Homo sapiens: one gene and its partners. The protein of the gene in region 2 purifies or fractionates together with the protein of the main gene of each other region. This does not show direct contact. Each region holds a gene or a part of one and is shown on either strand. Other genes may lie near its edges.

The links.
Region 1: the proteins of SUGP2 (region 2) and PPP2R2B purify together in Homo sapiens (co-immunoprecipitation; one large-scale study listed by IntAct). This does not show direct contact.
Region 3: the proteins of SUGP2 (region 2) and NBEAL2 purify together in Homo sapiens (tandem affinity purification; one large-scale study listed by IntAct). This does not show direct contact.

What each region holds. Positions count from the first base shown.
Region 1 is NC_000005.10:146,581,751-146,585,400, reverse strand, and holds part of PPP2R2B (serine/threonine-protein phosphatase 2A 55 kDa regulatory subunit B beta isoform), read left to right. Parts: 3' UTR 1-3,650. UniProt on the Homo sapiens protein: The B regulatory subunit might modulate substrate selectivity and catalytic activity, and might also direct the localization of the catalytic enzyme to a particular subcellular compartment.
Region 2 is NC_000019.10:18,990,375-18,993,087, forward strand, and holds the end of SUGP2 (SURP and G-patch domain-containing protein 2), read right to left. Parts: 3' UTR 519-2,713; downstream 1-518. UniProt on the Homo sapiens protein: May play a role in mRNA splicing.
Region 3 is NC_000003.12:46,978,234-46,982,557, forward strand, and holds the start of NBEAL2 (neurobeachin-like protein 2), read left to right. Parts: upstream 1-1,432; 5' UTR 1,433-1,628; coding exon 1,629-1,679; intron 1,680-3,698; exon of another isoform or gene 3,699-3,761; intron 3,762-4,324. UniProt on the Homo sapiens protein: Probably involved in thrombopoiesis. Plays a role in the development or secretion of alpha-granules, that contain several growth factors important for platelet biogenesis.

The DNA of each region.
Region 1 (3,650 bases), on a different chromosome or scaffold from region 2:
AGAAACAGATGAATGACAACCAAATTTACACAGTTCACAAGTGACAAAGCCAGGCAGTTTTAGTTAAAGTTCTTATCCACTATCCCCATCATACATTATGTGTGTGTGTGTGTGTGTGTGTGTGTGTGTGTGTGTGTGTGTATGCATGTAGATGGAAGTTACTGATCAGAAAACAAGCCCCAGTAATGACCCATAAGCTCAATGAATTAAAGATTCATTGGTTGCCTGGGATGTGTCAGGCAGCCAGGTTCTAGACAAGGGGCTGGAGTTACTAAGATATTTAAACCACTGGCCCCTGCCCTCCAAGAGATGACACTCACATAGGAGAAAGTGCATATTTGCATACTGTAAACATTTTTACAATGAGATATCTATGAAGGGCAGAAGTCATACAGAGGAAGAAATAGTTAATCAATGAGTGATAAGAAAAGGTTCTCAGAATGTGTCATCTAAGCAGAATTTTAACTAAATTTGCTCAACAAAGCATGATACAGCGTTTCCAATAGGTAGACCAACATATACCAGAATATGAAGCAAAATCCATATGGCATGGAAACAGAAAGCCAATGTTTCTCTCCTTCCATTAGAAACACATTTTCGACATACTAGAACTAGCCTACCCCTTTTTCCTTTTGTTCATCCAATAACAAATATTTATTAAACCTTATTTTAAGCACTGTATTTAAGTGTAAAGTAGACGGAAAGAATAAAAGGAAACCAATATTTCCTGAGTAGTTATTGCAATGACAGGCATTGGGAGAGGCACTGTTTTAAATCATTGTTAATCACCTGATAGGTAGATGTATTATTCCATTTTTATAGCGAGAAACAGACTCAAAAGGGTTAGATGACGTAGCAGGAAGTTTTATCTAGATCTATCCTGTTCCAGATCCTATACTTCTTCCATCACAGTTATTGGTAATGCAGAGTTACCTTGGCTTGATTATTTTCCCTAGCGTGGATACTCACAAACACGCCATTTCTCTGTGACTAAATATTGCCTGACAGCTGACCAAGAATACAAATTTGGTCTGTCATCAAAGCAGAGAGTGAAGTCAAGTGGCTCACAGGTCTCCAACTTCTGACTTTGACCTTATTATGACTGATTAACTGTCCCCCAATTTAGATATTCCATGCCCCATTGGTTAAACTGCTGGTGGCAGAACCATCATGATCTGCCATCTCCGCTGATCCCTGCCTCAGCTGCAATCAAAGCAATGATCACTGTCAGGCCAGAAGAAGGGGCTTAGCCACTGCCAAGACAGATCCCAGTCCACTCCCAGCCTTCCCGCCCCTGCTGCTCATTCCCCAAAAAGTCAACCTGGGTTTTCCTGGGTGAACAGTGCCCACTGAACAGCTCCTGCTTGCCCATCTCAAGCCCTCTCAGTTGCCACTCCAATCATTTTGGCTGCTGTATTTGGTTTGAGAAAGAGTGGAGAGGACACTTCTTCATAACTCATATTTGACAGAAACCCAGAAATTGTAGGAACAAGCCATGATTGCTGTGATTCTTGCTCTGGTTGGCTAGGGATGCCCTCCCTTCCAGCCAGAGTAATACATACTTGTGGGAGTCATGGAAGACTGAGGAAGCTGGAGTAGAAGGGAACAGGGGCTTTCCTCAGTGGTAAAAGGAAAAGCAACATTTTGGAACTCTAAACAGTTGCTCAGTTGGGCGAATTTCATGCATTCATTCATTCATTTACTAAATGGTTAATGATTGTTCATGTACTGCCTGCCAAGCCCATGCCAGGGTGGTCTGTGGAAGCAGCAGTGACAGCTCCATCTTCACACAGCTCACAGATAGCGGGAGGTGCAGACAAACTCACAGGCAATGGTGGCAGTGGAATGTCAAGAGCCCAGGATACCGAGCCTGCCAGCCTGCCTGCCTGGGTTAAAATCTGAGCTCCACCATGTAAAAGCTGAGCAACCTAGAAAAATGACAACCTCTCTGTGCCTCGATTTTCTCATTATGAGATAAGGATAAAAACGACATCTATCTCATAAAATTGCTGTGAAGATTGCATGATTTAATATGCACAAAGCTCTTAGAAGGATGCCTGGCCCACAAATATGCATTCAGTGCACATTTCTTGCTACAGTTCTGCTAATCCTATAAAACATATGCACTATGATGGATGTGTCTGGGTGCCAGGAGGACACAAAGGAGCACTAACTCATCCAGACCAGAAGCTTCCCAGAGGAGGTGATTCCCAAGGTGAAATCCGAAAGATAAAGGGAGTGAGTTATCCAGGAGAAGAGAAAGGAAAAGCATATTCCAGACATCAGGATAGGACAGTGGAGGCAAAACAGCATATGCTATATATATATGGAATTCACAACACTCTGGTATGACTGATTAGTAAAAAGTAGGAAGGCAGACCAAGAGAAATAAGGAGACATGGTAAGGTGAGTGGGCAATAATGCATGATCTGAAAAATAATAATGCATGGACTTAGTGTGGTTCACATATCAGGAGCTTCTCCAATAGCCAGGCTATGAGGCACTAAAATGAGGAAATATGGTTTCCAAACTTCGCAAATACTTATAGTCCAGCCACAGGGGATATACTGATAAACTCAGCTCAAATGTCACCTCCTCAGAGATGCTTTCTCAACCACCCTTAGTTCCATGAGGACTGCATCATTGTTTAGGCCACTCCTGTATCCCCAGAGCACAGAACATTGTCTGGCTCATAGTAGGTGCTCAAAAGTTTTGTTGAATGAATGAACAAATAAACGTGTAAGGAAGTCAGGCACAGCACTTGCCCACAGGAAGCTTATAAGATGAGCGGCATGCCATTGGGAGTTTGAATGATATATGGAGATCCAAACAGGGCATCAGAGGACTGCTCAGAGGAGTCAGGGAATTAAGAAAAAATTGGGAGCCAGTGAGCCAAGATGTGTTAAAAGCAAGTGATCAAGCTTAGATTGCAGTGTTAGTTAATAGAGCATATGTGTCCCTGCCTGATGCATTACCTTCCCTGCAGTAGTTAGCCTTCTGGGACCCTGAAAAGCATGCAGAAAGGTTGACAGCTTACAATCAATACCATGTTCACTGATGCAGGAAGCAACATTATCACATCCAAGATATTGCCCCCACACCCAGGCTGCAGCACTAAATATTCCCCATAACAAGGCAAAGGGAAGTGACAAGAGCTATTATTCTCAACCCTCCCACTTGGAAACAAGAGGTGAGACAAACCTTCCCCTAGATGTTCTTAGGGAAAGGCAAGACCCCCAAAGAAATCTTTCAGAGCTGAGCACATGCCTAATACAGCAAGACAGGGATGGGAGAAGATTGGCATTTTCATTTGCCTGGGTGTCCACAATATTGCAGGGGAAGCTCTGTGGGCAGCTGGGAAATACAACAATAAATTGGAGGGGGATGAACAATAGGGTCAGTGGGGCTGTGTGCTGAGTGAATGCTGGATTTTATTCTACATGCCCAATTCACTCCAATAAGATAAACTTGACTTCCTCCAGTGTGGCTTTCTTATTTCAGCTTCTCTGACTGTGGCATAATTGAAAGTCATATTTCATCTAGACCATTGGTTTTCAACTCCAAATGCAGGTGGCTTATGAAGACTCAGCCTGAATATATAAAGAGAACAGCAAACAATCATAGTTGCATATTAAAGACAATCTATTTCT
Region 2 (2,713 bases):
AGGAACCATGGGCAGGCTGGCAGCACCCAGGGACAGCAGGGAGTGTGAAGATGACAGAGAGGCAGCTCTGCAGTCAGAGGGTGGCCCAGGCAGGCTCTGGTTTTACTCTGGCAGCTGGAACCCCAGCCCTGGGATGATGGGGCAAAGCCCTGTGGGGACAGGTGAGTCGTAGGCAGCAGGGGCACAGCTCCCACTGCCCTGACACCCCTCAAAGGCAGCTTCTGTACTTGGCGGTACCGATTACCCTCCCCAGCCTCCCCAGAAGGGAATTGCCCTCCCTCTGGTGGGTGCTTGGTCCCTTCCTGCTCTCTGGCATCTTCCAAGCTTTCCTGGTGACAGTGACACAAGGTCCCTCAGGTGGGGCAAGCCAGTGAGGAGGGGCCCGAGGGAGGAGCACCACGCCGGCGGAGGGCACGTCCTGGGAGGCAGCCATCATCTGGTTCTACACTGCACTCCCATCTGCGTGCGCTGGTGTCTGATCTGATTTTAAAAACACAGCCATGGAGACCCCAGCACACTGCATTTCCTCTACATTTATTGCAACGGCTAAATGATTAACAACATTCACAACTTCTTAGATCTTAAAAAACAGAAACAAAAGAAAACTTCCATTTTGTAACATCACAAATGTCTTCTAGGCTTTATCAAGGACCAAAAACACTACAATTCTCTAAGTGATTTCCAGTGATGGAAACAAGCCAGAGACAGTAAAGCACCCAGAGTGGCGAGAGAGCACTTCCAGATGCCTGTTGTCCTCTCGGGGGTGACCCTGGAACTAGAACGACAGAAAAGACACTGTGACTTTGACACGGCTGTGCCACCACACATCACGCGCGACACGAGGATCCTGCAGAGCGGCCTCTGCAGAGAGCAAGGACAGCCTCGGTTAAGAGGGAGGGGCTGGGGGCACGGAGGGCCAGTGGCATCTCCTCTATCCCGGCTGGCCGGCAGCTGGCAGCACGCACCATGCTCTGCTGGCTCCCGACACCTTCACTGCCCCAGCGCTGAATCCACAGGAGAGGTGTCCTCTGAGAGTGTAGGGGGCTTTCTAGGTTCAAGGAGATGTGCCCTTTGACCCCTGCCAAGGACTCACAGAACCATCTCAGCTCAAACTTGGAGGAGCGGCAGGAGGTGGGGGGCGGTCAGTGGCCACACGCCACAGATTCCTAAAGCATTTAACTTTTTAATAAAATGAAGTGGAGAAAGTCAAGAATGAACATGCTAGGACAAAGCACATGGAATGGTCAGGGCGATGCTGGAGAGAGTGCGCTTGATCCACGCTGCAGGTGTGTGCGCCTCGCTCGGGTCAATGGGCTGAGCCCCGCTTGGAGCTCCATCCATTCACCTGACCCATGGCCAACATGGAAGCTGTCGGAGGGGTCAGGAAAGGAGAAGGAGAAAGGAGAAGATGAACCCCCCGCACCTGTGACTCCCCAAAACCAGCTCCACTCCAGGCCCCCACAGGCTGGTTCGTTCGAGGGTTGGGTTATAAACCCAAACTCCATCCTCCATGCTGGCACCTCTACTGCCATAAAGATCTGCCAGTTGCCAAAGCTACAGAAGCCACTGGAAGCAAGCAGAGCCCCTGGGGGTGGTGGCACTGCAAGGTGACAGGGACCAGGCAGACAAGGAGCTGGGACCACAGCCTAGGAAGTCTGTGGCTTAAAGAAAGCCAGGATTTCCTTTTTTTTTTTTGAGACAGAGTCTCGCTCTGTTGCCAGGCTGGAGTGCGGTGGCACAATCTCGGCTCACTGCAACCTCCGCCTCCCGGGTTCAAGTGATTCTCCTGCCTCAGCCTCCTGAGTAGCTGGGACTACAAGCGCCCGCCACCACGCCCAGCTAATTTTTTGCATTTTTAGTAGAGACAGGGTTTCACCATGTTGGCCAGGATGGTCTCGATCTCTTGACCTCGTGATCCACCTGCCTCGGCCTCCCAAAGTGCTGGAATTATAGGCGTGAGTCACCGTGCCGGCCTTTTTTTTTTTTTTTTTTGGAGATGGAGTCTTGCTCTGTCGCCCAGGCTGGAGTGGAGTGGCATGATCTCAGCTCACTGCAACCTCTGCCTCCCCGGTTCAAGTGATTCTCCTGCCTCAGCCTCCTGAGTAGCTGGGATTACAGGTGCCCGCTACCACGCCTGGCTAATTTTTTTGTATTTTTAGTAGAGACGGGGTTACACCATGTTGGCCAGGCTGGTCTCAAACTCCTGACCTCAGGTGATCCATCCGCCTCAACCTCCTAAAGTGCTGGGATTACAGGCTTGAGCCACTGTGCCTGGCCCAAAGCCAGGATTTCTTTACAGCCAATACAAGTGGCATTTCCCGCTCAGTTCTGTGGCTGATGCCCTAGCCACTGCTGTGTCCCCTAATCCTGGGGTGTCAGAGGGATCCTAAGTTTTCCAGATTTTTGCCCATACTTAAAACTTCAACGATCCTGCTTCACAAGGAAGGATGAGTGGAGAATTGAGTGGAGTTACACGCAGCAGAGTGCTGGGGAATCTGGAGAGCGGGGGCGATCACATGCCTGGAAATAGAGCAGCTGCAGAGCCCACCCCAGGAGGAGCCTGCCTCTCCTTACAAAGGCTGTAATAAGACAGCACTTGACGATGCCATACGTGCGAAAAGTGCAGAGTCTCAGAGGGTTTACAACCCCCATCCCTTTGTAACTGTAGTTTGCTTACACTGTGGATTCTAAAGAGACATGTAAATCTGGGGCC
Region 3 (4,324 bases), on a different chromosome or scaffold from region 2:
GATGGGTTGCTCTGCCAAGGCCTGGCATGCAGTTTGGAGGTGCTCAGGAAACCTCAGCTCAGAGCTATGATGGATGAAGCAGGACAAAAGGCCAGAGGTGAACCAAGAAGCTGGGAGAACAAAACAGGACAGGGTCTCTGTTGTCTTGGCCAACCAAGGTCTAGGAGTCTCCAGACTGGTCAACTCCTGGAACGAGTAGCACCCCTCTGGGCCCAGAAAACTTCTCCCCAGCCCCAACAAAGAGCCTGATCCCTGCCCAACACCAGGGGTTGGGTCCCTGCCACCATCACCCCGTGCCCCTTTCCCCGTGTCCAGACTGTGAGGTAAGGGGATGGGGAAGGGGGCACGGGGTGATGGTGGCAGGGACCCAAAAAAGAGTCAGTCAAGCCTGGGTCCCTGCCCCTGCTGCCCAAGTGGTCCTCATTTGGTCAACTTGGGCCTCAGTTTCTCCATCTGTAAAACAGAGCCGGCCGGGTGCGGTGGCTCATGCCTATAATCCCAGCACTTTGGGAGGTCGAGGCGGGTGGATCATGAAGTCAGGAAATCCAGACCATCCTGGCTAACACGGTGGAACCCCGTCTCTACTAAAAATACAAAAAATTAGCTGGGCCTGGTGACACGCGCCTGTAGTCCCAGCTACTCAGGAGGCTGAGGCAGGAGAATCACTTGAACCCAGGAGGCGGAGATTGCAGTGAGCCGAGATCGAGTCACTGCACTCCAGCCTGGGCGACAGAGTGAGACTCTGTCTCAAAAACAAACAAAAAACAGAGCCATGAGGCACCCACCTGTTGAGGTTAAAGAAACAACATATGTGAAGCAAGTTCTGGGCCCTGGAGTTGGGGAATGGGGGGAGCCCCTCCACTGGAGCGTTTGGGAAGGCTTCCTGGAGGAGGGAGGGGGACCCGTGGCAACGGTCTAAGCCTCTCTGGGATCTGGGAGGGCACCGCGGCCCCGAAGGTATTTCAGGCTAGTCCTGCTACTCTCTAACTTCCCGCCATCACACTCCACAAACAGCTAGAGCTCAAAAGTTGCGTTTCGGTCTTCCCATAAAGCGACAGAGTAGCACCTGGCATTTGATAAGCGCTACAAGGGGTCGTCATGGTGGTGGTGGAGATTATTGTTGAAGGACCCTCGCCACCTCCACGCGGCCCGCCGCCCCTTCCCTGAATGGCGGCAAATGCAGTCAGGCGAGCAGCGTCCTGGGCGGATTCAGACCCTGGGGAAGTCTGGAATTCCTCACCCCGACCCTCGTCCCGGAGGCTCAGGCTGGCCCTTCCAATGGCACTGGTGGGGCAGGGCAGCGGGGCACCCTCCCGGGCCGCCCGGCCCATAGGCCCCTCCTCCTGCCAGGCTCTCCGCCCTTTACATGGTCCCAGGAGAGGCGGGGCGGCGGTGACTGCAGCGAAGTGCAGGAAGCTGGGCGGCGGCCGGCAGTGAGGAGGAGGAGCGAGCAGACTTGGGTGGCTCTGCGCCGCGGAGGCCACAGCCGCAGACTTCCCCAGTAGTACCGCGCCGCTCCGCCCCGGAGTGACGCCCTCCGCCCATGGGCCTGGCCGAGGGCAACCGGCGGGCGGCGCGGAGGAGGCGGCGACAGGTGGCGCGCAGCAGGGCCGGAGCCGGGCCGGGCCATGGCCGCCTCGGAGCGGCTGTACGAGTTGTGGCTGCTCTACTACGCGCAGGTGAGCCCGCCCCGCCCCGCGCCCGCACCCGCACCCGCGGTGCCCCCAGCTTCGCGCGCCCCGCGCCTGCTGCACCTGGCGCCCCGCGCCGCTGGGGCCGCGTAGCCGCGCGCGCGGGCGCGCGCGCGCAGGGCATGCTCCGGCTCCGCACACACGTGTGTGCCCCCAGCCCGCCGGGTGCCTCTGGCACTTATGCCTTGGGGACAGAGCTCGCGGTCGTGCACTTCATAGCAACCCACCCCCGCGAGCAGGACCGTGCAGCCTGAGTCTTTCTTGCTAGAGGAGAGTGGCCTGGGCCGAGGCGGCCGGACACTTGGCCTTTTTACAAATGGGGAAACTGAGACCTGGAGAGACCTGGAGACTGGCCAGGAGGCTAGGGGGAGGGGGACTCAATTTGTCTATGAGCTGCCTCTCCCTTGGGCGCGGCCTGATTGGGTGGTCGTGGCCAACGGGTCTGGGGGTGTGGGCCAAGGTAGGGAGGTGTGTGGAAGGGGAATGCTCCCACTTCAGGTCCTTCTTGAGTTGCATCCCCCCACACCCCAGCGAACAGGCTGTGATAAGCTCTTCCCTGACTTGAAATGACCCACCCCACCCCACCCCCATTCTGAGGGGTAGACCCAGGACCTCTCTAGGAGCAGAAGAAAAGGTTTTCCTCTGGATGCCCAGGGTGAGGGTGGGTCCTTGAGGCCCTGAGGGATGTCTGAAAAGGTTGGAGGGAGGCCCGTTCCTCCTGAGCTCCCCACCCATCTCAGAAAATACTTCAGGTGGAGTCAGAAGGTGAGGGGAGTGACTCAGACGTGGGTGTCCCATCAGCTGAGAACCTGGTATCACTCACACCGTCTCACACACATAGTCCCCCATTTTCCTTCTGTACCCACAGCAGGGAGGGATCCCAGGGTAACACTCCCCTCCCCTTCACCCAGCACCTCCCTCCCTGCACCTGCCTGGCATCATGCTCCTGGCTCAGGTGTGCCCTGGGCACAATGGACCATTGTGTGCCCTGAACAGTTTGTCAGTGGGGGGAATTCATGCTCAGACACGCTGGCCCTCCATAAGGAGGCTGGCCCACTGTCTTCCACGGACCTGGAGTCCAGGCCAGAAGGACCACAGCCTCTTCAGTCCGCTCAGGTTGTGAGAGGTCCAGGCCCCAGCAGGAGGCCAGGCATGGAGTAGAGTCCCTCTTTGGTATAACTCAGATCGAACTCGACTTCTGAGCCTCTGCTTCCTGCCTGTAAAACTGACACAGCCCTGGCCGGGCACGGTGGCTCACACCTGTAATCCCAGCACTTTGGGAGGCCGAGGCGGGCAGATCACAAGGTCAGGAGATCGAGACCATCCTGGCCAACATGGTGAAACCCCATCTCTACTAAAATACAAAAATTAGCCGGGCGTGGTGGGGTGTGCCTGTAATCCCAGCTACTCGGGAGGCTGAGGCAGGAGAATCGCTTGAACCAGGGAGGCAGAGGTTGCAGTGAGCCGAGATCGCGCCACTGCACTCCAGCCTGGTGACAGAGTGAGACTCCGTCTCAAAAAAATAAAATAAAAATAAAAAACTGACACAGCCCTGACCTCAGGGGCTTCCTGGACTCTGTGGAGAGGTAGCCATTATAGCTGGTCCAGACCAGAGAAGGCTCCTGTTTTCCTGGCCCCATTGGGTCCCCTCGCCCCAGCTTCTCTGCCTGCATCCCCAGTGGTTGTGAAGGAGCAGAGGGTTTGAAGAGAAGCCTACCCTAGTCCTCCTTCCTCGGACTGCCCCATAGCTATGGGCAGGCTCTAGGTGCATGGGCAGGTAAAGGGGGCTTAAACCAGCTGGTGAGTGTGAGGGATGTTAATGATAGGTCTTCAGCCTGGGTGGCAGGCTGCTGGGAGTGTCTTGGTATCTCCCAGGACAGTAACTCCAGCATGGTTGCCTCCTGATGCCCCATCTAGCTGAGCTCTGTACATGGCCACCCCCCATCCCCTCAGGAGGTGGTTATGGCTCATATCTGTGCTGAGCCTCCCCCTCCCGGAGCTCCTCACCTCGCAGGGCAGGTATGGAGCATAGGCTGGCAGGTTGTAGCTTTGGAAGCCTGAGCAGACAGTGGGCAGCCTGGGGCCAGGCAAACAAATCCAGGATGTAACAGCAAACCCCCAAGCCAGGCGGGGCCAGGCTGCCTGGGAAGAGGAAGCTAGGGCCAGCCTCCCAGCTCGCCTTCCTGCCCGCCTGCTCCTGACCCTGATCCTGGAACCCCCAATCCAGGGAGGAGTAGGCTATGCAACTTTGAGTCCTGTTAGGGACCTATTGTGTGTGTGCTTGGGGAGGGGGAGTGCAAGGTAAGGGGCAGAGCTGAAAGTGGGTGTTTAGAGACCCTTTAGTTGGCCAGCCACCCAGCCAGCAACACCTGCACCCCTCCCTTCAGCAGTGAGAGCTGACATCAGCTGGCAAACCTGTTTCCCCAGTTGTGGGTCTGGGTGGGGATGGAGAGGGGGGAGTAACTCCTTCCTGCCCTTCCTCTTCCTTAAAGACCCCAGGTTTAGACCCACCCACCCCCTCCCCCTGGGGGCCCGGCTCAACTGGGGGCCTCATAGTGAGGGAGGGGGCTGTGGGTGGCTGCTGAGGGAAGAGGGAAGGGTCAGAGCATCCCAGGACTTCACTCAGTTGGAGC